3 separate regions of the Homo sapiens genome follow, and all the other regions are linked to region 1. Evidence: fine-mapped expression QTL. A gene starts in region 1. Each other region holds a variant in brackets. All regions are shown on one strand. Distances are from middle to middle.

Region 1 (8,188 bases):
CCCTATGTGAACCCTAGGAATTGTTCTGCCCGCTTATTTCCAGTGGTTCTTTCCTCAGTCTTACATAGTTTCCATGAATCCATGCAAGGATCAGCACTCAGTTTAGGCTCATGAGGAACTCCTTAAAGATTTTCAGAGCTTTGTTTTTGCATACTCTCTAACAAATAAAGAAACAGATAAAGAAAATGTGGTATATATACACAATGGAATACTATTCAGCCTTAAAAAAGAAGAAAATGCCGTCATTTGTGACAACATGGATAAACCTGGAGGACATTATGCTAAGTGATATTAGCCAGCCACAGAAAGAGAAACACTCCACTTAGATGTGGAATCTAAAAAAGTCAAGCTCATAAAAGTAGAGAGTAGAATGGTGGTTACCAGAGGGTAGCAAAGCTGGAGGGTGGGACAGGGATAGAGATCAGAAAGATGTCCAACGGATACAATAAGTTTCAGTTAGGAGGAATAAGTTTTATAGATCTATTACATAGCATGGTGACTAGTTATTAATAATATATATTTCAGAACTGCTAAAAGAGCAGATTTTAAATGTTCTCATCACAAAAAAATTCTGAGTATGTGAAATGATGGATATGTTAATCAGATTGATTTAATCATTCCACAATGTAAATATTTATCAAAAAATCAACTGTACCCCATTAATATACACAATAATTAATCAATTTAAAATCAAACAAATCAAAAATGGACCAAATAATGGCAGATCATCAGCCTGAGTGCCAGAAGGGGGATAACATAAAGCATAGCCCCCAGACACCCCTCAATGGACATGTATCATGTACAAAAAAAAAATTGTTGTTTTACACCACTGAGATTTTGGGGTTGATTGTTACCACAGCACAACAAAGTTTATGCTGATGTATACAGACTTTGGTCCAGACTTAGGTACCGCTATAACAAAAATCTAAAATATAAGTCACCATACCTAAGTGGTCAAGCAGCAATTAACAAGGAAACTGTTGTGGAAAGCTAAAAGGATAGTGATCTATGTCACCCAGGAACAAACCTATTGGGAAAAATCTTTGGAAAACTCTGTGATAACCTAGAAGGCATGTGATTTAACTAATGAATTTAAATGTTGGGAGAAGAGGCTGGAAAACAATAACATGTCAGTTGCTACTGTTTGTCAAGTTATATGAGAAAGAGATGAGCTCAGAAATGGCGGTGTGCAAGCAAGAATAAAAACAGACCACCCACAACTCTGAATTATATTTTAATGACAACTTACAAAAGCTACAGAATAATTTTCTTCTAAAACATTTTATTCCCCTTCAGAACTTTGCAGCATGTTTTCAATGCCTTCCAGTACTGAATGTGCTATATAGATGAGTCTAAAGTACTCTAATTAATTGTTTTTTCTTCATCCCACTCCCCCGTTCATTTCATGCCTAGGTACCTAAAAAATTCTCTCTTTATTCTGAAAAGTTGAATGCCTTAATGAGGCTGCATGTCTTGGTGTTGATTTTTCTATAAATTGTCCTATAGAACATAGTGTGTATCCTTTTAATCTATGTATTTTTCTTCCTTTTTTTTTATCAAGTACATTTTTTCCTCCATTTGCTGTGGGCACATGTTAATCTTATGTTGAGCCATCTTTGTCTCCTTCATACATATTATTTTTAATAACTTTCATATCTCTGGGTTTTGCCTAGTATTGTTATTATTTTAAGACTTTCCTCTACATTATAATTTGATGTGCATCTCTCTAGTCTGCTTCTTAAATGCTTTTAAAAATTATTTCTTTAAGTCCTTTAAGGTGGATGTTGTTGTCTTCAGTTAATTTCCTTAGTTCTTTTATCTCCATTTTATTTCATTTATTCATCAAATATTTATTTACTATCTACTATATGCAAGGTACTATCCCTAGTAGTGGATAAAACAACAAGACTCAGCCCTCATAGAGCTTGAGTCTTATTATTTTAGTATCTTGTCTTTAAGTTCCTGTTTTATTGCATTCATATTCTTAAGTTCTTCTTCAGCACAAAGTAGATATGATGAATTTTCTTTTCTCCCCTCTTAGGCTAGGTTTTACCCCAAGGTCTTGTACTTTATCCATCTTTTACATCGTTCCTTCCTTCCTCTCCCCCTTCCCTCCCTCTCTCCCTTCCATCCTTGTCTTCCTTCCTTCAATTTTAGGAGTCCATAGGATTCCCAATAATTTTTTTCTTTTTCATTTTCAGCATGTGGAATTCTGTTCACTCTATTTGCTCTGTATGTTGGTCAGCTATCACTACAATAAAACTGCACCCCAAAATTTCAGTAATTTCAACCAAAAACATTTCTCTTGCTTATAATATTCTGAATAGCCCGCTGCGGTTCAACCGATCTCAACTTGGCTCACCCGGGTTTGCATATACGGAAGTTTTGGAGTGGCTGGCATGTGAGGCTCTACCTTGCTTGGCTCTTAAGCAGAACTGTCTCTCAGTCTGATTCTCTAGAGACTGAAGTTATTAATAAGATGTGTTAGGACTTTTCTTTCCTGTGTGGGGAATAATGACTGGGACTGCATGAAGGGTAGGGCTCTGCAAAGGCCAGTGTATCATCTCACCTAGCACTGATAACACACTGATACAGACCTATTCACATCACTGCCTACAAACTGGACCAAGACTTGCAAATTTTGGAAGCCCCAGACGTTGGGACTTTAGCATCAAGACCTAAAATGCCCAACTTTACCTCTACCACTGACCCCATACTCAGTAAGAAGTTAAGAATAAATCCAGCCTACAAAAATTTACTGACCGAAAGCTGCCTATTACCAAAAGATATAAAATCCATTGCAACTTTAAACCTACCGGCTACCAGAGAAATTTAATAGTAACTACTACGTGTCTTGGTGGGACAATAAAGTGTTCTAATCCATTGAATATTACAGTTCATATTAGCACATATTCATAGCACATACCATATAACTTTTTATTAAACAAAGAAGACTTCTTAGAGTTTCGTAGTTCTTCAGAATTTTTGTGGAAAATATTAATTTCATTAAAGAAGTACTTGAGTTCTTAATTAAAATCTGGTCTAATTTGATCAATAGAAGTTTACATATTTTAATGTTTGACAATTTTAAGTAGTTGGTAATTGTCATAATGCCTAACTTTTTAATCTTCTCCTGCCTATCCCATCTAAATACCCATCTAAATGCCTAGTGTTAATCTCGTGTCTTCTATCAGACTTCTACATACTCATCTACATCCTCAACCACTGAATCCTATTGCACTTATAGTCAACGCCACACAATTCTTTAAGTATTTCGCGTGTATGTCTTCAATTAGATTGTAAGCTTCTTGGAACTGGATCTATGCCTTAATTTCTTTCTAATCTTCCCAGCGAGCCTACAAGTTAATTTGGGGAGTATACAGCGTTCAACAAATACTGGTTGGGTCTGTGACCTTAGCTTTGCCATTTTTGTCAAAGCGTATAACCATCTAGTTTCAATTGTGCCCTGACATGACTATTTCTCTGGGGTTTCTCTTTGCTCAACGCCATTGTTCATTTTCTATTAGAATAAAGGGCTTGTTGAACAGAGATGCCAACGCAGCGTCCCGTGGAATCTGAATAAACGGACTGATCCACCGCCCCGGGTGTTGAGGCTGTGAACAAAAATTAAACCTCTGATAGCCCACGAACAGCTTAACGACACATATTTTAAAATACCACTCCAAAGCCTAGTTACCTGCCAGTTACCCCGGCCTCCGGAGCTGCCGATGCTCGAAGATGTTGACAAGGCAGCTAGGATATACAGTCCAGAAGCCCAGTCGCTACGGTAACGGTGACACGCAAGTGCACTTGCGCGGCCTTCTGACGGAAAACCTTAGCCTGAACCTACAGACGTGCTTAGCGACGGCAGAGGCTTGCGGCAGTAGCGTGACTTACGGCAGCTCTCTAGCAGAGCGCCGTTGCTGGGGGAATGCAGAAGCGGCCGCGGGCTAGCAAGCTCCCGGAGCCGGCGGCGCACCACCATGACCCAGTCGGTGGTCGTACAGGGTAAGCTACGCCGGGCGGGTAGAGACCTGGTCGCCGCGGAATCCAGCGGCCATGTTTCCTGCTTAATGTCCTATTCTCTTTCCTTCCTCTCCTCCGGTCGCAGTCGGCCAGTGCGGAAACCAGATCGGCTGCTGCTTCTGGGACCTGGCACTAAGGGAGCACGCCGCGGTCAACCAGGTACCCGCCCGCCGCCGCGAGCCCCCTCGCCTGTCAGCTAGGTCTTCCAGCCCATACGCAGGAAATAATCGACTTGAGCTTTCATCTGACCCGTTTAAGATGCATGGGATCTTCCCAGTAAAGAACGTACTGGTTTTTAAACATGTTGCGTCAGACACACACTAAACTAAAAGAACACTGGCCAGCGACCTTAGTCTTAACGTTTTTCCTGATTCTCAGGGTCTCCTCTTTATTGGTGTTCGTGTGCAGAACAGTGAGATTTGTATATGGGAAAGTACTTTGTAAAATAGATAACACGTGTGGTTATTGTATTCCTTAATTTAACCAGTCAGCTTTTAAAAAGATTACGAAGAATCCAGAGAACGCTCATTTGATGGACCTGTCCTACAGTCCTATGGGTGAAATCCTTTCTTTAGCACCCCCTGCTGAACTTTTTATCTGTAGATCTGGCATTTACTCTTCTAAGGAGATTGGGAAGAGTCAGGCTCCGCATTTTGTGATACTTGGTTTTTCTTATCAGAGTCTCATCCTAGCCATTACAGTATTATGTAATTAAAATTGAAAGAACTTGATTTGGGCGAGAAGCAAAACCTAAATGCTATTAACATATGTTTTTCTTTTTAGAAAGGAATTTATGATGAGGCAATAAGCAGCTTCTTTAGAAATGTGGACACCAGGTAAGATGGGATTAAAGTCTGTCACAGTGTGATACTTTAAGTTTCAGTAGCTTGGGAGAGAATTCTTCAAAGGACAATAAAAATAGCCAGCTGCGAAGTTGTGTTTTTTTGTTTCATTATTGAAAGCATATTTATTCTATTAGATTATTAATATTCTTATATCATTTTCCCGAAGAAGACAACAGATTTCCCTTTAGTGTGACTTCTTTTAACTTAACCTTGAAATAAGTTTCATTAAAAGAAAGCTGAAATTTTCCCAGAGGGCATCTTGTTAATGCATCCTGTAATAACTAACTTTTGAAAGAAAAATATATTGTTTACATATATGCTGTAAGTATAAAAATATACTTAAAAAGGTGACAAGCAGTTGTTGGATTGTTTTTGTTTATTTAATAAAGAGTATATGTAAGTACCATATATGTTTTATCTGGAAGAGTAATTTAAGTTGCCGTTTAGGATATCTCCATAAGCTTTTAATATTAAATCATTAAGTTCATGCATTTTCAAAATACTTCATAAAACTAACTGTCCTGTGCTTAAACTGAAAAATACATACTTCGTGTCAGGCTTTAATCCAATAGGAACATCAGTTCTAGTTTAAAATAGTTGGCTGGGTGTGTGAGCAGTTATCTTCAGAGAAAGCTGATTAGTCCGCGCTTCCTGGGTGAATTCCAGAGTCTATCTAGGGCACTGGCTTGCAAACTCAGAAGTGTCATTGGCATCTCGAGATGGGTTCAGTGCTCTCCAGTACAGCCAGGTTAACCAAAGACCAAATTCTCATTTTCATAGGCACATTACTTTATCTTTTGTAGGAAATCTAACTGAAAAGCTGTGTAATAATCTGAAGGTTGCTTGGTGACCATGGAATCAGACCAAAGGAAGTTAGTTACTTTAATGGCTGGTATCATTTATATTTATTTTATGGAGATATCTGTCATATAGACTATAGATTCCCTCTTATTTGTAGCCCACAATATCCTCACCTCTAAATTCTCTTAGGAGACTCAAATTTGCTTCTGTCATACTTCCTTTCCGGCGCTTCTCTTGCTAAGTTCCTACACCCACCTCTTTACTTCTTGTTACCCAACGCTTACATTGAGTATTACATAGTTGAGACTCAGCCTGGGAGCTTTTCTTTCTTCATAAGGTGACTCTTCATAACTACACTCTCATCTACTCTGTGTGTTTTATACTTTAACCTGAGAGCACTATTATTTTCCCGGTAAGTTTGGCAAACAGGGTTGTGGCATCTTGCACTTCTTTCTGTGTACTATCAACACATGCAGCATCTGTTCCACAGCTTAGTACAAAAAATATTTTTCAAAGTAAAACCATATCTTTGTGTACTATTCTTATCAAATTTTTATACCTTTTGAGTAGCATGATAGGAATTTACCTACAGCATGGGTTGGCATGCATATATTTTCTGTAAAGGACCAGGCAGTAAATATTTTAGGTTTTGTGAACCATAAAGTCTTTTGCACCACTACTTGATCTGTAGCATGATTGTGGGCATAGGTAATACATAAAGGAATGGGTGTGTCCACATTTGAATAAAATTTTATTTAGGAAAACAGGCAGCTAGTTGAATTTGGCCTGATGATTGGCTACCCTTCATATATTCCGTCTTGTGAACTGTCTTTATTGACCCATATACTGCGTTAGATTTTAGTACTTTGGCAACTTATTTCCAACGTGAAATTCTGAGAACAACCTTAGATACTCAATGGTAAATACCAGTTATATCAGTTGATGGGTGTTAACTGCAATAGAAAACTACATTAATGGTGGCTGAGGCAGTAAAGGTATTCATTTATCTCACAAATCTGCAAATCAGATGTTCTAGGTTTAAAGGAATGCCTCAAAGATCTAATACTATATATGTTCCACTGTCCATAAGTGTGTTGGCTTTTTGTACTTGTATTATTACTTCATGACTATAAAATGGCAGTCTTCTCCAGGAATCACATCCATATTCAAGTTTGAGGCAGGAAAAAGAAAGAAGATAGGCACCAACTGCATCTGGTCCTTCTTTAAAAGCTTCCCAGAATACTTCCCCTTTATCTCATTGGCTAGAACTGGATTACATGGCCAGCCCTAACTACAAAGAAAGCCAGGAAACTAAGTACCTCACTTTTTCAGCCTAATGGGAGGTAAGCAAGGAAGAAAGAGATTAGGAATAGCTGTTGTGTCTGCCTTACCTGGCCTATAAGCAGTCTTATTATATAAATGGAAGTTAACTTTATCACCTGATAGTGCTATTAGCCATGGAAGATCTTATGACCATTTCTCATTTTTTTATCTTTCAGAGTGGTTGGTGATGGTGGAAGTATTTCCAAGGGAAAAATATGTTCTTTAAAAGCACGAGTAAGATACATATGCTTGGATTCTTATATTACATGTATTTTTTAAATAACTATTCTCAGTAACTATCATGAGAATAAAACTTTAAACTTTTCAAAGTAGAAAAAAATTACTAAGCCACATTTAATATAAATATAACTAAGCAGACATTTGTGTCCACCTAACACATTAGGGGGAAAAGCCCATACTTTAAAACACTGTAGTTAGCCTGTTTTCAGGAGAAATAGTGTCTAGATAAATGATAACAAAAGGAGCATTCTTAACTCTAAGGACCTGAAATACGTACTAGTACAGTTTAATGTTTTATTTAAAGATACTGGAAGATTTATTTGCATCAAAGTTACTACCAATAAAAAACATGGAACCAGCCACATTGTAGTGAATAAAAACCATTCACCATATAAGTTCTCCTGAACCAAGTACTTCAGGTTCTTAGCCCATATTTACAGTCTTATTTACAGTCTTAATCATTCCAACAATATTTCTGTGATTGTCTGTAACGAACTACTTTTTCTGATTTTTGATCAGTGATCTTTGACTATAATAGAAAAGAAAGTTTAAATGTTATGGAAGGTGCTGGGCGCGGTGGCTCACGCCTGTAATCCCAGCACTTTGGGAGGCCGAAGCGGGCAGATCACAAGGTCAGGAGATCAAGACCATCCTGGCTAACATGGTGAAACCCCGTCTCTACTAAAAATACAAAAAATTAGCTGGGCGAGGTGGCGGGCACCTGTAGTCCTAGCTGCTCGGGAGGCTGAGGCAGGAAAATGGCGTGAACCCCGGGGGGCAGAGCCTGCAGTGAGCCGAGATCGCGCCACTGCATCCAACCTGGGCGACAGCGGGACTCCGTCTCAAAAAAAAAAAAAAAAAATGTTATGGAAGGAATTGAGATGCCAAGGATCAGACCTGGTGTAGTAGCTTAAAGACTGGTGAGCAATAGTTTTGTGACATCTGGGAATCAT
Region 2 (8,188 bases), 33 kb after region 1:
CCTCGTGTCTTGCAGTTCTTGTATGCATTAGGTTCCAGAAAGTTAAAGTGCCTGTAGTTCCCTGCATATATGATGCTGTTCCTCCTGCCTGGGACATTCTGCCCAGACCCAGCTCCTTCTTCATCTAGTTAAAGGATACTTCAAGGTTCTGTTTCAGTATCATCTTTTCCAGAAAGGTTCCTATAACTTCCCTGCCTTGCACACATTTTTAAACTGAAATTACCCATGTAAGTGCCTATCTCTTCCACTAGCCGTAAAGCCACCCAACCTCAGGTGCTTGTGGTTTGTTTGTGAGTATACCACCAGCACCTAGCACAGTGCCTGGCAATTTGCTTATGTAAATAACTCTTAATGTTTATTTGATGGAACCAGGGACTGTTGAATTGATTACTAGATCTAAGTCCATTTGCAGCTCAAAAATTCTACATTTAGAAGTATCTGTAGGAAATTCCACCCAATATTAAACCCTCAGCCTTTTTTCTTACTACTGGTAAAACACATATGCCTCAGTAAAGAGTAACGTTTCAGCTGTGATTCAAAAGTTACATGCACAACGTGAGAATGGGTTTTGATGGGGAGGATAGGACACTGCTGGGCTTCTGGAGAAGGAGCAGGGGAAAAGGAAACATCAAAATGGAGAAGGGAGTAGAAATAGTGAAGCTAGAATCCTAAAAAAATTTTAAACTTAAAAAAATTTTGCCTCCATCTCAGTTTTGCACAGGTTCAGCTATAGCCACCAGTGATTCAGGATGCCAGGTTCAGTGGCCTCTTTGCTGGTCTCACATCCGTGAACCCTCTTCAGTCCTCCTCTTGCCCCACCTCTCTAAGGCATTTAACTCTCCTCTACCTTGGATTTCATTACATCTGGTCCCCCCAGTCCTCCCCTTACTTTTCAACGCACTTTCTCAATCTCCTCCGCAGGCTCCTGTTACCCTGAATTTGACTTAAATTTAGGCCTATTGGTGTTTCATAGCTTTAATGTATTGCTTGCCTCATTCTACACTGTGTCTTGGCAATCTCACCCACACCCTTGCCTTCAGTTTTCATCCTATGCAAGTTTCAAAACTAAATTTCCAGCCTGGACTTCTCCACTGAGCCCTGGACCCGTGAGATAACTACCTACTGGACATCTCCACCCAAATGTCCTCCAGGAAATACTCAAGTCCAAAAGTCATCATTTTTCACTCTTCAAAGTTTGGAGTCAGGAAGCTGGATTCATCTGGGTTGTCTTCCTCCCTCTCACCTCCTATGACGATTCAGTGACCCTCTCCTATGTATTGTATTGTCCTCGTCTTCCCAGAACTAGATGCTTTTCCCCATTTCATTGCTACTAAGTAAGCACCGTCACTACGAGTTCCTGACTGACCTTCCTCCCTCCAGAATGACTTTTCAAGTGCATCTACTATGTTGCTCCTGGAGGAATCTCTTTAAAGAACATGTCTGGTTGTATTACTCCTCTCCTTAAAGCCCATCAGGGGTTCCCCATAGTCCATACTGTGCAGCCTAAACTTCTGAGCCAGTTATCCAAAGCCCTCTCCTGCCTACCTCTTGAGCTTTAGCTCTCACACACTCTCCTTCCATGACTTGCCATTTGCTGGACTCCCTGGGTTGGTTTTCTCCTCCCTGCTTTTTCATGTGTTCTTTCTAATGAAATGCACACTCCCAAAACTGCCCCCGGATGCCTCTTTAACTTTCCAATTTTGAAGCATTTCCAGATAATCTCTGAGGTCAAAAGGTAACACTGTTGAAATCCAAGGATAAAGAGAAAATCATAACAGTAGACTGAGAAAAGCATTACATACTGAATTACATGAAAAATGAGATCTGACTTCTCATCAAAAGACGGAGGAGGAGGAAGAGATTGAGAAGAAGATGTGCAAAGACAATGTTGAAAGGAAAAAAAAACAACCTGTCAACCCAGAATTATATGGCCAGTGAAACCATCTTTCAAAAATGAAGCTGAAATAGCCTGTAATCCCAGCACTTTGGGATGCCGAGGCAGGTGGATCACTTGAGGCGGGGAGTTCAAGACTAGCCTGGCCAACATGGCAAAACCCCATCTCTACTAAAAATACAAAAACTTAGCCAGGTGTGGTGGCGTGCACCTGTAGTCCCAGCTACTCAGGAGGCTGAGACAGGAGAATCGCTTGAACCCAGAAGGCAGAGGTTGCAGTGAGCCAAGACACGCCACTGCACTCCAGCCTAGGCAACAGAGGGTGATTCCATCTCAAAATAAAGAAAATCATAACAGTAGACTGAGAAAAGGGGGAAGCATTACATACAGAAGTACAATAAAACTGAGATCTGACTTCTCATCAAAAGAAGGAGGAGGAGGGAGAGATGGAGAAGAACAAGATGCCCAGAGACAATGTTAAACGGAGAAAAAAAAAAATCCTGTCAATCCAGAATTATATAGCCAGTGAAACTGTCTTTCAAACATGATGGTGAAATAAAAACCGTTTCTGGGTAAACAAAACCTAAGAGAAATTGTTGCTAGCTGATCTGCCTCACAAGAAATACTAAAGGAGGATCTTCGGTCTGAAGATCTTCTGTTATGATAGTAACTTAGAAATACAGGAAGAAATGAAGAGGCCTGGACATAGTCAATATGTGGGTAAATATAAAGAATCTTATATTTTTCACTTTTCCTCAGGCATATTTTGATTGTTTTCAACAGCAAAATTTCAGGACAATAAGCATCACTAGAATGGTGCAATAGAAAGAATAAGCATTTTGACAACAGATCCGAGCTTTGCAACAGCTCTGTGATCTTACAGAACTTCCCATCATTTGATCTCCTCTGTAATATGGGATTAATAATGACCACCTTGTAAAGTTGTTTTGATAATTAAGATAATAACTAAAGCACCCTTGGGCCGGAGGTGGTGGCTCACACCTGTAATCCCAACACTTTGGGAGGCCGAGGTGGGCGGATCACTTGAGGTCAGGAGTTCAAGACCAGCTTGGCCAACAGGGCAAAACCCTATCTCTACTAAAATACAAAAATTGGCAAGGCATGGTGGTGTAGGCCTGTAATCTCAGCTACTTGGGAGGCTGAGGCACAACAATCGCTTGAACCCAGGAGGTGGAGGTTGCAGTGACCCAAGACTGCACCACTGCACTCCAGCCTGGAACGACAGAGCAAGGCTCTGTCTCTAAATAAATAAATAAATAAATAAATAAAGCACCCAGCACAGTATTTGGCATATAGCAGCTATTCAGTAAATGCTAGGTATTATCAGCTATTTCATGAATTTATGAATTCATAAAAGCAAAGTTAAGCACAAAATAATCCATTTTTACCGCTCTTTGTGTAACACCTTTCTGTGTTTGTTGTTGTTTATTTTGTACACATCTCTCTGTGTTGGAATACCTGCTGTCTAAGAACATCTAGCTGCTCTCAATCCACAATGACAGGCTTTTTCTCAAGAACAGTGGAATAGGAGGCACACAGACAGGGGAGTGAGCCCCTCCACAGAACAGCAGCAATGACCTGGACCACTGACATTCTTGTCATGATTCTTTTGAAATCGTAAATCTCTCTCTATATGGTATAACAATTTGCAATTCCTTGTTTTCTAAGATGTATCTACTACTTATGGCCCCAATCAACTACTAACTCACAGACACACCCATGTTTCCTAAATCACCAGATTTCAAAAGCTCTGTCTCCTGTCTACCGTGTAAATAAATCAACAATTAAGTCACCTTGTTTTCATCTTCTTATTTAAAAAGACTAAGGCAATGAATTGCTCATAGTAAGTTAAACTTCCCTTTGGTCTGTTGCTTGAAATATTTCCAAGCCTCCATGGACTGCTTCCCTTTCAGGAAGTGAGAAACACATGGACTGAGAAAAGACAAAGTAAGAGAATGTTTTAAAAATGTAAATGTTTATTCCAAAGTGCCCCTTTCAAAGAAGGACAGACTTAACTGGAAAAAGTCGCTGTCAAAATTCGTTTTTCCAGGGGCTCTTTGCACATTTTGCAAACAGCAATGGAAAGTTGAGCCTCCGCCTGGAGCTGGCATGGAGAGACACTGTTTCCCGCACTGTGCCAGGCTGTGCCTTAGGCTCTGCTATAAAAATATATAGGAAAGCGTGGCGCTGTTCAAACATAGCGAAAGGAGGCTTCGGTGCCATTACCTGAAAGGGAGAAATGTTTTACATTTCTTTCATGAAGCTCATGAACGAACACAGAACTTTATTTGGAAAGAAAAATGGCTTCCTATTTCTCATGAAGTAGTTCCACAAGCCATTGATCCTCCCTCTTCCTCCATCTTCGTTTTGTTTAGTTTTGGGCCTGAAGAACTAAGGATGGCCATAGCCTCCGGAAGGGAAAGAGTCGGGGGAGAGGACTTACCTGTGCCAGGCCAGCAAGCAGAAGAGTGGAGAAGAGGAGCCCCTGCATGTCGCTGGGACCGTGGAGCCACCCTGAGGGGTAGAGAAGTCGCCGCTTGTTCATTGCTCCGGGTACACAAAGCTCCCCTGTCTCCTCTGCAAACCCCACGCTCCTCTGCACAAGAACACACACCCTCTACCTCCCACACTACCAACTTTCAGCCTGCACTTTCATTTTTAAGGATCCGTTTTAATACCCTGTTTACTTTCATGGGACTCTTCTAATAACCTGCCTTCGCAGTGAGCGTGTCACAGGTCAGGAATGGGCGAGCACTTTCCTCCCGGGACTCAGGAGGGCAGGGCAAGTAGTGACTGTTCTCTAAGTGACTGTGTTACCTGTTCCTGGAGAGCAGAGCCTGCCCCCGACAACGGGTGGGGTCCCACGTCATTCCCTTCCTTGCCCTCAGCTTCTCCATCTGTGTTTGCCCTGCTCCGGGTCCTCTCTAGGCTGCTTCCTTCTCCAGCTTCACCCTCACGTACAGAGTGCAGGCCTGGCCCCCCCACCAACAGCACCCATCGCAGCCTAGCCCTGGCTTTCCCCCTCCATATTAATGGCAGGCTCTCGAAGGACCCTGACTCCCCCAGCTCAGATTCTCTCGGAGGCACCCACAGTGCCCTGGGCTCAC[C/T]TTTATCCCAACACCTTTCTCATGCCAGGTGGACTGTGAGTGGAAAAAATACAGATGGAGCAGGGGGCGGACTCCTACAGTACCTGGCCTGAGAGACGCCTCTTTTTGTGGCCACAGTTCCATGACAGATGACAATGAAGTTAACCTCCATTTTTCCGGGCCTAAAATAAAACAATTACACTGGTAGCAATCATTCATTTAATGAATTAAGATTAAAAATAAGCCTGGCCAATATGATGAAATCCCGTCTCTGCTAAAAAAAAAAAAAGACACAAAAATTAGCCAGGTGTGGTGGCAGGCGCCTGTAATCCCAGCTGCTTGGGAGGCTGAGGCAGGAGAATCGCTTGAACCTGGGAGGCGGAGGTTGCAGTGAGCCGAGATCGCACCATTGCACTCCAGCCTGGGGGACAAGAGTGAGAATTATTCTCAAAAAAAAAAAAAAGATTAAAAATAAAATTTTGACAGGTTTGTACTCCTCTTCTTCATACTCACCTCCCTGAAAGGTGTGACCACCAGCGCATCTCCTCCTGTGTCATCATGTGGGACCTTCGCTTCTCCATGTTCTCAGCCTGGGTCTGTGTTCCCATCTTCATTTGCAGCTGCCGTGGTGCTTTGTCCCTCTCAGGTCCCTGAGGCGTCCCACCTGCCTGCCCCCATCCCAAGGCCTATTTCTATTTCCTTTGATCAGTTACCTATCCCTCCTTTTCCTGCTGCCTTACCTATCCTATACCGATTGCTCACCTTTGTTACTGTTCAAGGCAGTCACTACTGTATAAAGACAACATCAAGCCTCGCTTAGGCCTGAGCTGAGGGCCTGGGAAAAACGAGGCTGTCCTCCACCACAGAGAATCTGGTGTCCTTGGAGAACCATGGACACCCTAAAACCTGCAGATCACACAGAGCTTACTAAGGAGTCATTAAACTGTAAGTATATGCACATCAAACAACAAGGAATACCCACTGCAGTTAGGATGCCAACGCCTTATCTTGCCTCCCTAAGAAATAGGACAAAACCAGATAATGGAGTAGTGAAGAAAATGTGTCTGTTTTGGTCCAATCTGATCTTTTTCTTTTCTTTTTTTTTTTTTATTATTATACTTCAAGTTCTAGGGTACATGTGCACAATGTGCAGGTTAGTTACATATGTATACATGTGCCATGTTGGTGTGCTGCACCCATTAACTCGTCCTTTAGCATTAGGCATATCTCCTAATGCTATCCCTCCCCCCTCCCCCCACCCCACAACAGGCCCCGGTGTGTGATGTTCCCCTTCCTGTGTCCCAGTGTTCTCACTGTAGAGAAGTCCTTAAATGACCTGATGGAGCTGAAAACCATGGCACGAGAACTACGTGATGAATGCACAAGCTTCAGTAGCCGATTCGATCAACTGGAAGAAAGGGTATCAGTGATGGAAGATCAAATGAATGAAATGAAGCGAGAAGAGAAGTTTAGAGAAAAAAGAATAAAAAGAAACGAACAAAGCCTCCAAGAAATATGAGACTATGTGAAAAGACCAAATCTACCTCTGATTGGTGTACCTGAAAGTGACGGGGAGAATGGAACCAAGATGGAAAACACTCTTCAGAATATTATCCAGGAGAACTTCCCCAACCAAGCAAGGCAGGCCAACATTCAAATTCAGGAAATACAGAGAACGCCACAAAGATACTCCTCGAGAAGAGCAACTCCAAGACACATAATTGTCAGATTCGCCAAAGTTGAAATGAAGGAAAATATGTTAAGGGCAGCCAGAGAGAAAGGTCGGGTTACCCACAAAGGGAAGCCCATCAGACTAACAGCGGATCTCTCGGCAGAAACTCTATAAGCCAGAAGAGAGTGGTGGCCAATATTCAATGCTCTTAAAGAAAAGAATTTTCAACCCAGAATTTCATATCCAGCCAAACTAAGCTTCATAAGTGAGGGAGAAATAAAATCCTTTACAAACAAGCAAATGCTGAGAGATTTTGTCACCACCAGGCCTGCCCTACAAGAGCTCCTGAAGGAAGCACTAAACGTGGAGAGGAACAACTGGTACCAGCCACTGCAAAAACATGCCAAATTGTAAAGACCATCAATGCTAGGAAGAAACTGCATCAACTAACAAGCAAAATAACCAGCTAACATCATAATGTGGATCAAATTCACACATAACAATATTAACCTTCACACTTAACAATATTAACCTTAAATGTAAATGGACTAAATGCTTCAATTAAAAGACACAGACTGGCAAATTGGATAAAGAGTCAAGACCCATCAGTGTCCAATCTGATCTTTGTCTTTTTATCTTCCTGGTTATCACCATTGGTCTGTGGGTACCAGCCTGTGATTCCCACACCACACCGGCTGTCAGGATGGATAATTTCATGTTTCTGGTTTGTCTATGAAAAGCAGAGGAGTCGCATCCCAACACTGGGGTATTCATCAACTGTATCTCTCCAGCTCCAGCTCTCCCCCGGTTCCACATATAGTAATGCACATATCAGTGCAATTTTTGAATTTAAGGAGTTTCACCCTCCTCCCGTTTGCTGTCTGTGAAATGCTGGCGGCAGCAGGCATTTTTCTGGAATCGTCTTCCATCCCTCTGCAGTCTCACTGACGTGGAGCAGGGGAAGATAGATGTTGACCATCCTTGCCTCTTGGTAGGAAAGGAACATCTTGCTTGAAAAGTGACCTGCAAAACCTCCCCCAGCTCCAGAACACACTGGCGCTGGGTTACTCACTCCCACATGTGTTTAGACATCTTTGGCTGTGGGAGCTCCTATTTAACTCTTTCCAGCCGACTGTGTGTGGACTCCATGGATATGGTAGTTTTAGAGGTCGGGGCTGCTATTTTTGACCTTACACAATAAGAGCTTTCACAGTGTGTGTCCTGTTCTGAGCATGTTTCCCTATTATCTCATTTAACAGAATGCTAATCTGTCTAGGAGCTCATTTCACAAGTGTTCAGTTTGTGATGTACGTTCCAATAGACATGGCGCTAAGCATAATTCAATGTGCACCATGTTCTATGATTTACAAAGAAGTTTCCTGTGTATTACATTTTTAATTTCACAGCTCAGTGAGGTGGGCAAAAGCAGTATTACCAACCTCATTTAACAGATTAAAAAGTGAAAGCTAAGCGATTATACTTGGTCAATAAAACACACTTAATCTCTGCCCTCTA
Region 3 (8,188 bases), 28 kb before region 1:
TCTCCGAGTCCTAGAAGAAAGTCTTCCTCCTACTGAAGCTACCTGGAAAATCAAGGGTCCCATTTATTTGGGAGGTGTGGCTCCTGGAAAGGCTGTGAAAAATGTTCAGGTAAGCCAGGCATGACCAGGTAGAGCCATTGACCATTAGAGCCAGAAGATCATCTAATTGAGGCCCTCGTCTCACAGATTAGGAAACTAGAAACTAGCACCAGTAAAACTGTAGTTTTCTGGAAATGGGATATCAAAGTAAGTACTGTCTTATGGGCTGCCTGTCTGCCCTGTGGCATTACAAAGTCAGAAGTAATCTTTCAATTCTAAGGTAGATGTCAAATGAAAAAGTTTCAGAGGCATAAATTATCATGAAAATTTATGTCTCAAGGAGATCTTATTTGTTCAGGAAGTACCCATACTTTTAATGTAAAGACATAACAAAAAAGAAAGCAAATCATTGCATTATACATTATTGAGTGAAAAAAAAAGTTTCAGGTCATTATGCAAACTACAATCCCATTTTTCTTACACACACACACACACACACACACATACACACACACACACACAATTTGTAAATGTATAAGGAAATGTGGTTGCCCTGGGGAGAAGTGAGAATATAGTAGAAAAATATTATTTGTGTAATTTAAAAATTAAAAATATTGCACTTATAAAAAATTTAGCAATAAAAGGAATGCATCAAAGGACTAAATTTTTCTTAACATAAATATAGGTTGGATTTTAGCAATGTTAAAAATAATTTCTAAGACCTATTAATATATGTAGATGAAGCAAAAAAGATGGTTTACATTATAATTAGATTTTAGATAAGCAGCCCCAATTCCATGGCAATCTCTTTTTTAAAATGTCCAAATGCAGGACAAAATCAGTTATCTTAAGTGGCCCAAGTTTCATGTCCTGTGATATGATAAATTCTCAACCACAAAAACAGCTCATGAAACCAGAAATGAAAGCTTTCTGCTGTTTATTTGGCTATGGTAGATTTAAGTAAAGAACTTTGCTAGCCCTCATCAGCCTTAGGTGATCTTGGCACAGCTGTCATTCTTGAGGGAAAACTAGGATACTTCTAAATATGCAGTTTGAAAACCACAGCTGCAACTTATTGTGTCAAAGTGTAACATAAAAATGTCCATAGCTTAATTACTACAGGTTGACATTATCAAATACAAAATTCCAGCTTCAAACAACCAGTTAGAAAGCAACTATCCAGGAAAGTACTGATCATTCAGATATCTGAAATAAATGAAACAAGGAATTACGTGGGTTCCTTCAGGACTCAAACCCCCTCATTTTGCTTCCCCTTGGTGCATTTGTGTTGAGAAAATTGATTTTAAGAAATATCTTCTTCCCTCAGATTAACTCCATCTACAGTTTTAGTGGCTGTCTCAGCAATCTCCAGCTCAATGGGGCCTCCATCACCTCTGCTTCTCAGACATTCAGTGTGACCCCTTGCTTTGAAGGCCCCATGGAAACAGGAACTTACTTTTCAACAGAAGGAGGATACGTGGTTCTAGGTAACATTAGTCATGTTAAAAATATGAGTCATGAAATGCTTCTTCCTGGAGATGGCTAACAGGGAATATCAGGCCCAGAGTTAAAACTTAAGAATGCCAAACTCAGCCCTAGAAGATGACCTCTTCCCACAAGAACCACCTTTCTCCCTCCTGCACTCCAAACCATACATGCAGTCCCCATCCCTGTATACTCTCCCTGACCAGGCTTCTCCACAGCTGCCAAACTTCTGGATGAAGACCACCTGGGCTCCTTTAGAATGTCTATGCTGCTCCGTGGCCTGATCCATGTCAGTTTTTGGCCACCTTGCTCCTCAAGGTCTTGCTCTGCTCCTTCTTGGCATGAACCATTGTCCTACTAAAGGAAGTCCCACTTTCTCCCCATGACTTGCAACACCAGCAGACAACGTTATCCTTCAGAAATTTTTATTTCTGGCTTTTTATTATTCTCCTTGACCATTACTCCCTCACTCATTCAGTTTTTATTGTATGCCTCCCATAAGGCAGTCCCTATGCCAGATGATGGGACATAACAGTTCTAAAAATAAATAAAATCCTAGCAGACTACACACAATCATCATCTAATTCATTCCAAGAATATTCTATGGAGCAATCGCTGGGTGTGAGGAAGACACCAGAATAAGTGCCCGGAATTAGGATAGGAAAGGGTATAAAGCTGCATGTTCCCTCCTCTCAAGGCACTTAGGTACTTTGCACATCCCCTGAATAAAGAAATTACACTGCAGCCAAGTTTACTTTTTAAACCACCACCATATCCAGCAGAACACCCAGAGGTAGTATTTCCTCTCTGCTTAGCTCATGATTTTACTTTCCTGCCTCACCCATCTTTACCCCTACACTAAAACACCTACACTTACAATTCTCAGCCTTTCATGGAATTTCAGTGATAAGAACTCTTAACAGTTTGGACAGCTGGGAATACAGAGCAAACTGCACAATTTATATACTACTCCATGAGCACTAACTAATAACAGGAAAAAATTTTAAATGATTTATAGGATACATTAAATGAACATTATTTAGATGCCCTGGTTTGCAATGAGTCTCTTGGAGTAAACACAACTATTCTTAATAAGAATTTTATTGGATCACCTCAGTAACAGCTCCTAAATACTTTCTCTGCTCTTTCTCCTCTGAAATGCTGTACAACACTGGCACCAGTTAGGTTTCTGTTTAATAATTATTTTAAAATACAGGTCCGATCAAGACAGCTGTCTTGCTCAGTGACTGTAAAATAAAGCCTAACTTCCATACTTCACCACTAGAGCCCTTCCCAGTGTGGCTCCCACTCACCATGCCTCCTTCTCCCCTGGCAGGGACAGTCCAGCCACAGTGGCCTTCACAGTGCTCTCCAAGCATTCCAGCCTCTGTACCTGTGTTGAGTCTACTTCCTCTGCCCAGATTGCCCTGTCCTCCTCACTTGTGAAATACTCAGTAGTGCTGCTGCTACTTGGAATTAATTTCTCCTCCCCTGAGCTCCCATAACACATATTTTGTGTGCTGTTGCCAGCCTCACACCCCACAACAGGATTGATGCATTAGTTATCTTGGTTCCCCACAGAGCTTTCCACAGTGAGTTTGACATGGAAAAGCCACTTTCTACTTATCTGTTAAAAAATGCATCAAACTTTCAAAAACAGATAAAAATATATATAATTACAAAATCACACCATAGTTACAAATATGATCTTGCTGTTCTTGGGAGTTTATAGTGTTTCTCTCCACAGATGAATCTTTCAATATTGGATTGAAGTTTGAAATTGCATTTGAAGTCCGTCCCAGAAGCAGTTCCGGAACCCTGGTCCACGGCCACAGTGTCAATGGGGAGTACCTAAATGTTCACATGAAAAATGGACAGGTAGTGTCTGAAAAATGTTTAACAATTTGTCTCATCTGACCTTGGATTCTAGATCTGAAGCAGATTTATTTCACAGAATTATTTCATCAATCTTTCCTAACTGAAAAGAAATATAGGAAAGCTATAACATGAAATGTAAATGTGGGCAATATTTGGATTCAGCTTCCTATGTTGAAAGTTGATTTGGTTAAAACAAAGAGTCATAAAAATATGGCAAAACTATCAAAAAAATCACTAATAACAACACAGTTTTAAGAGAAGAATGAGAAGAACTTTTTTTCACCAAATGGAATCAGCAAACATAACTATCAAAATCAACAAACACTAAAACATCTTTCTAAATATCTATAATATGTATGTATATCAGATATATGTATGTGTACTAGATATGTATATATACTATACATATTATTCTCAATTGATAGAAATAAAAAATTATGTTGTAATGCCACTTTCATCCTAAGATACTACTAAAGAATATTCATGGAAGTATTCAAATAAATATTAAGAAAAAAGTATATTTTCATTGATGCTGCTAACTTAACATAACAGATTTTTATTTGGGTTCTAGTACATTCTATTAAATTATATTGAGCCATCACAATAAAATGTATCCCTACTTGGTGTTTACTATTTGTTGGGTACTATTCTAAGCTTTACCTAGATTAACTCATTTAATCCTCCCAATTATCTCCATGATGTAGGTAACAGTATCGCTTATAATTTACAAACGAGAAAACTGGGGCAGAGAGTAAGTTAAATAGGAGACTGGCTGTCTAGCTTCAAAGTCCATGTTCTTCACCAATACTTCAACCTGCTTTGTATAACACACTCAATCTTTAGAAATTAAAGGGATTTATTCTATTTCTTATTGTCCCTCTCTCGCAATTTTCTCCCCTATGAAGTCACTTTGTTCTCTCCCCAAAGAGCACCCCCAGTTGAACCTATTTCTATAGGCTGCCAAAGACCCTTGTGTTCAAATTGCAAAGCTAATCATGTGTGAATATTTGTTGAAGTATTGCTTCACTGTGGTAAATTATTTAAGAAATTCAGTTTTATCACAATGAGGACAAACTAAATCATACAATGTGTCCTATCTTTTGCAGGTCATAGTGAAAGTCAATAATGGCATCAGAGATTTTTCCACCTCAGT[T/A]ACACCCAAGCAGAGTCTCTGTGATGGCAGATGGCACAGAATTACAGGTGAGAAAACTGACTGCCCTGGGGAGCCTGCACACCCAACTGTAAGATTATGATCTGGCAGAACTTAGGCTATCACTTATATGATAGGTAATGCATGACAGTCTAAAAGTATCCAAGAAAAGAAAATCATGTTATTATACTATTATGTGTATACTGAATCCACATGTGATTTCAAAATATGAACGCTGCAAAATTGTGTTAAGGGGTTGCTTCAATAATGCATAACTTATAGGGCAAAAAAAAGTAGCACAAGAATATTCTAAATATTCTCCCTTTCTAAGGAAAATGTTACAGTAATCTCTTGGTTAGACATTGTTAGACATCATTGATGATTTTAATAATATAGAAGAAAGTGTGGGTTTTATTCTGGAATAAATAAAAGCAATTGCTGTGATAAATAGTCTTTCTCAGGTTAAAAATTCATCACTCCAGTGCCACTTATGACCAGTCTTTGCCCTGCATTTCAGTTATTAGAGATTCTAATGTGGTTCAGTTGGATGTGGACTCTGAAGTGAACCATGTGGTTGGACCCCTGAATCCAAAACCAATTGATCACAGGGAGCCTGTGTTTGTTGGAGGTGTTCCAGGTAAGTGTTGTTTAAAAAGGAAAAGTTCCCAATCCAAAAAACTGAGTTCTCACAATTGTTATTGTAGAATTGAGCCATGTGTTTTTATGATGCACCTAGTTACTCAAAGGATTTTATATACAGTGTTGTTTAAATGGAAAAGGCATAATAAAGTGACATGTAAGAACTAGACCCCAGCATTCCAGCCAGTGGCTATTACTCTCCCTTGCCATATTTGCTTATTTTTTTCTTTCCTTTCCCTTTTAAGTGCCCGCCACACACATACACACAGTGACACACATACTCTTATTTTATCTCTAACACAAAGAAAACTCATTGACTAACACTACAGTAGGATCTGAGAACTTTGGAGGATTAAGTTTGCTGTTAGTTGCTCCCCTTCCTCAGTAGGAAAAAATGCACAGTTCGGTCCATGATTAGTCTGAACTGCAAAAACAGCTGCAGACCATAAGTTGTTGTCCATTGGTAGTGACATTCCCTCAGAGAGGTTCCCAGCTGCAATTCTGTAAACATCATCAGTCACTGCTGCTGTCATCTGCCAAGAATGGTGTATAATCCCGGATGGTGACAGGACACTTATGGACAACACACAAACACCCCAATTGTTTTAAACCTGTGAAGCAAGGACCATGTCCTCATATTGAATGCATTTGTTTTTACACATTTCACTAACTTGGAAAACCTGAATGCTATGGCTGGGGAGTGGGATTTAAAAGGGAAATAACCCAGCTTTTGCAGCTGGAACTTGGTGGGGAGTTTTTAATTGACATATCATAGTTGTACATATTTTGGGGGTACATGTGATATTTTGATACCTGTATACAATGTGTAATGATCAAATCAGGATAATTGCAATATCCACCACCTAAAACATTTATCTTTTCTTTGTGTTGGTAACATTACAATTCTTCTCTTCTAGCTATTTTGAAATGCACAATAAATTATCCTTAACTATAATTTCCCTATTGTACTATGAAATTCTAGAAATTATTCCTTCTATCTAACTGTATTTTTGTATCCATTAACCAAGTTATTTTCATCTCCTTCTTCCCCCTTCCCTTCCCAGCCTCTAGTAACTACCAACTACTCTCTACCTCTCTCCATGAGATTTACTTCTTAAGCTCATGTATGTGAGTGAGGACACATGATATTTGTCTTTCTGTGCTTGGCTTGGTGGAGATTTTAATAATCTTCTAATAGATTATTTTTAAACTGACCCATAAAGACAGACAATGCTTTAAAGAAGAGAGCAAGAAGCACAGATAAAATTAAGCATCTGACCTTGGGTACTCCAAAAATAGTAACAACTAAGCACTCTTCTTTGTCTGAATTTTTCAAATACTAGTATTGACAATAATAGTAACCCGGTGTGAAAAAAAATATTTGAGACCCTCGCAAAGCAACTCTTCTCCTTTGTCTCCTGCTTCCACTCCCCTCTCCATTCCCCAGTCCTCTCCCTGTTCCTGACTTCAGCTTTGAAAGGATTCTGGCAAAGGCCAGCACTGCACTTCATGCAGGTGCAGCATGAAAAAGTCTCACATGAGTGCATATTTCTGCACATTGCTTCCCTCCAGAAATCACAACACAGTTTAAAATGTTTCACAGGTTCCCAAGAGCCTCCAGGATTAAATTCACCATAGCATGCAAGCTCCCTGATCATCTGTCTCCTCCTTGTCCCTGCCTTCGGGATCTCCCCACACCTTCTGGGACTTGCAGTTCCTAAATGTTCAACGATGGTATCTTTGCTCCGGGCCTTTCCATAAGGGAACTGGGCCTCAATTTCTGGGAAATGTTCTTCCTTTCCTCCCCTAGTACCTTTGTTAAGAAACAACTTCTCCTATTCCTCCCCATTCTAACTCCTATTGACCTTTAGGACTCAGCTCAGACTTTTACTTACAACACGCCCCTTTCCCCCTAGGATGTATACACATACTGCTGTTGTAGCACTTAGCACAGAATATTGTTGAAACTAAGAAGTGCATTCCTTGATGGCAGGGAACATGACTATATCCAACACACAGCATGGATTGTCTATTAAGCATTGTGCTAGGCTTTGGGAGGTGGACAAAACAAGCATGGCCCTCCCTCATGGAAGTTGGAGTATTTGTCCTTCACTATGCCACCCAACGTACTTACTACATCTTTCAAACAGATATTTCTCTTTGGTTTTTGTTTGTTTGTTTGCTTTCACAGTCTGATCCCAGCCTCACACACTGCCATCATCCCTCACTACAAGAGTTGCTAAGCCCTACAGACTGGACAGGCAAGATGTACCTAAAGCCAAATTCAGCCTGCCTGAAACACAGAATGAATAGCAAACTTTAGTTAATGAGCCAGCACAGGAGCTAGCAGGCCAGAAGGGCGTAACCACCAGCCCACTGCACCACTGCAGCTTTTAAGTCCATCTAAGAATTATGCCAGCAAGCCTAGAATAAAAGCAACTATACTTTAAGATGAAATGTAATTAATTATATCATTTTGAGCTGTTCAAGATTAATTCCACTAAAATCACATCAGAAACCAGGCATTAAGAGGATAGCTAAAGAAATTAGGCTAAATAAAACCCCTAAATGCACTGAATTCTCCAAGAATACCACTCAGAACTCTGGTGACTCATTATTTCTATCCATAAAAAGCTAACGCATAAAATTCCTAGAACTACACACCAAAAAAGTCAACTTTAGTGTGTGATAGTTTTAAAATCAAAATTAAAAATCAAAGAATTTTTTTTCTGCCGGACATGGTGGCTCGCGCCTGTAATCCTAGCACTTTGGGAGGCCAAGGTGGGTGGATCACTTGAGCTCAGGAGGTGGAAACCAGCCTGGCCAACATGGCAAAACCCCATCTCTATTAAAGATACAAAAAATAGCTGAGTGTGGTGGTGAGTGCCTGTAATCCCTCCAGCTACTCAGGAGGCTGAGGCAGCGGAATCGCTTGAACCCAGGAACTGGAGACTATAGTGAGCACAGATCACACCGCTGCACTCTAGCCTGGGCCAC

What was found. PIP is the estimated chance that this variant, and not a neighbour inherited with it, causes the effect. A credible set is the group of variants that fine-mapping cannot tell apart.
Region 2: its variant is the best candidate, but not a certain one, in a credible set for the expression of TUBE1 in adrenal gland (GTEx, PIP 0.69).
Region 3: its variant is the best candidate, but not a certain one, in a credible set for the expression of TUBE1 in lung (TOPMed, PIP 0.59).

The regions. Positions count from the first base shown.
Region 1 is chr6:112,083,230-112,091,417 of GRCh38, reverse strand. It overlaps TUBE1 (tubulin epsilon 1), which reads left to right and starts at 3,936. Exons shown (of 12, transcript NM_016262.5): 1 at 3,936-4,008; 2 at 4,112-4,185; 3 at 4,810-4,862; 4 at 7,172-7,229. The coding sequence starts at 3,984. It overlaps FAM229B (family with sequence similarity 229 member B), which reads right to left and starts at 3,827. Exons shown (of 4, transcript NM_001033564.3): 1 at 3,698-3,827. RefSeq lists enhancers at 3,767-3,956, 3,691-4,222, 4,357-4,406.
Region 2 is chr6:112,050,576-112,058,763 of GRCh38, reverse strand. CCN6 (cellular communication network factor 6) reads right to left here and starts at 4,660. Exons shown (of 5, transcript NM_198239.2): 1 at 4,359-4,660. The coding sequence starts at 4,406. The variant C/T (reference allele first, on the strand shown) is at 5,023.
Region 3 is chr6:112,111,077-112,119,264 of GRCh38, reverse strand. It overlaps LAMA4 (laminin subunit alpha 4), which reads left to right. Exons shown (of 39, transcript NM_001105206.3): 34 at 1-109; 35 at 1,367-1,526; 36 at 3,272-3,402; 37 at 4,509-4,602; 38 at 5,070-5,189. LOC107986633 (a long non-coding RNA gene) reads right to left here and starts at 3,276. Exons shown (of 2, transcript XR_001744299.2): 1 at 2,838-3,276. RefSeq lists silencers at 5,592-5,792, 5,772-5,972. The variant T/A (reference allele first, on the strand shown) is at 4,556.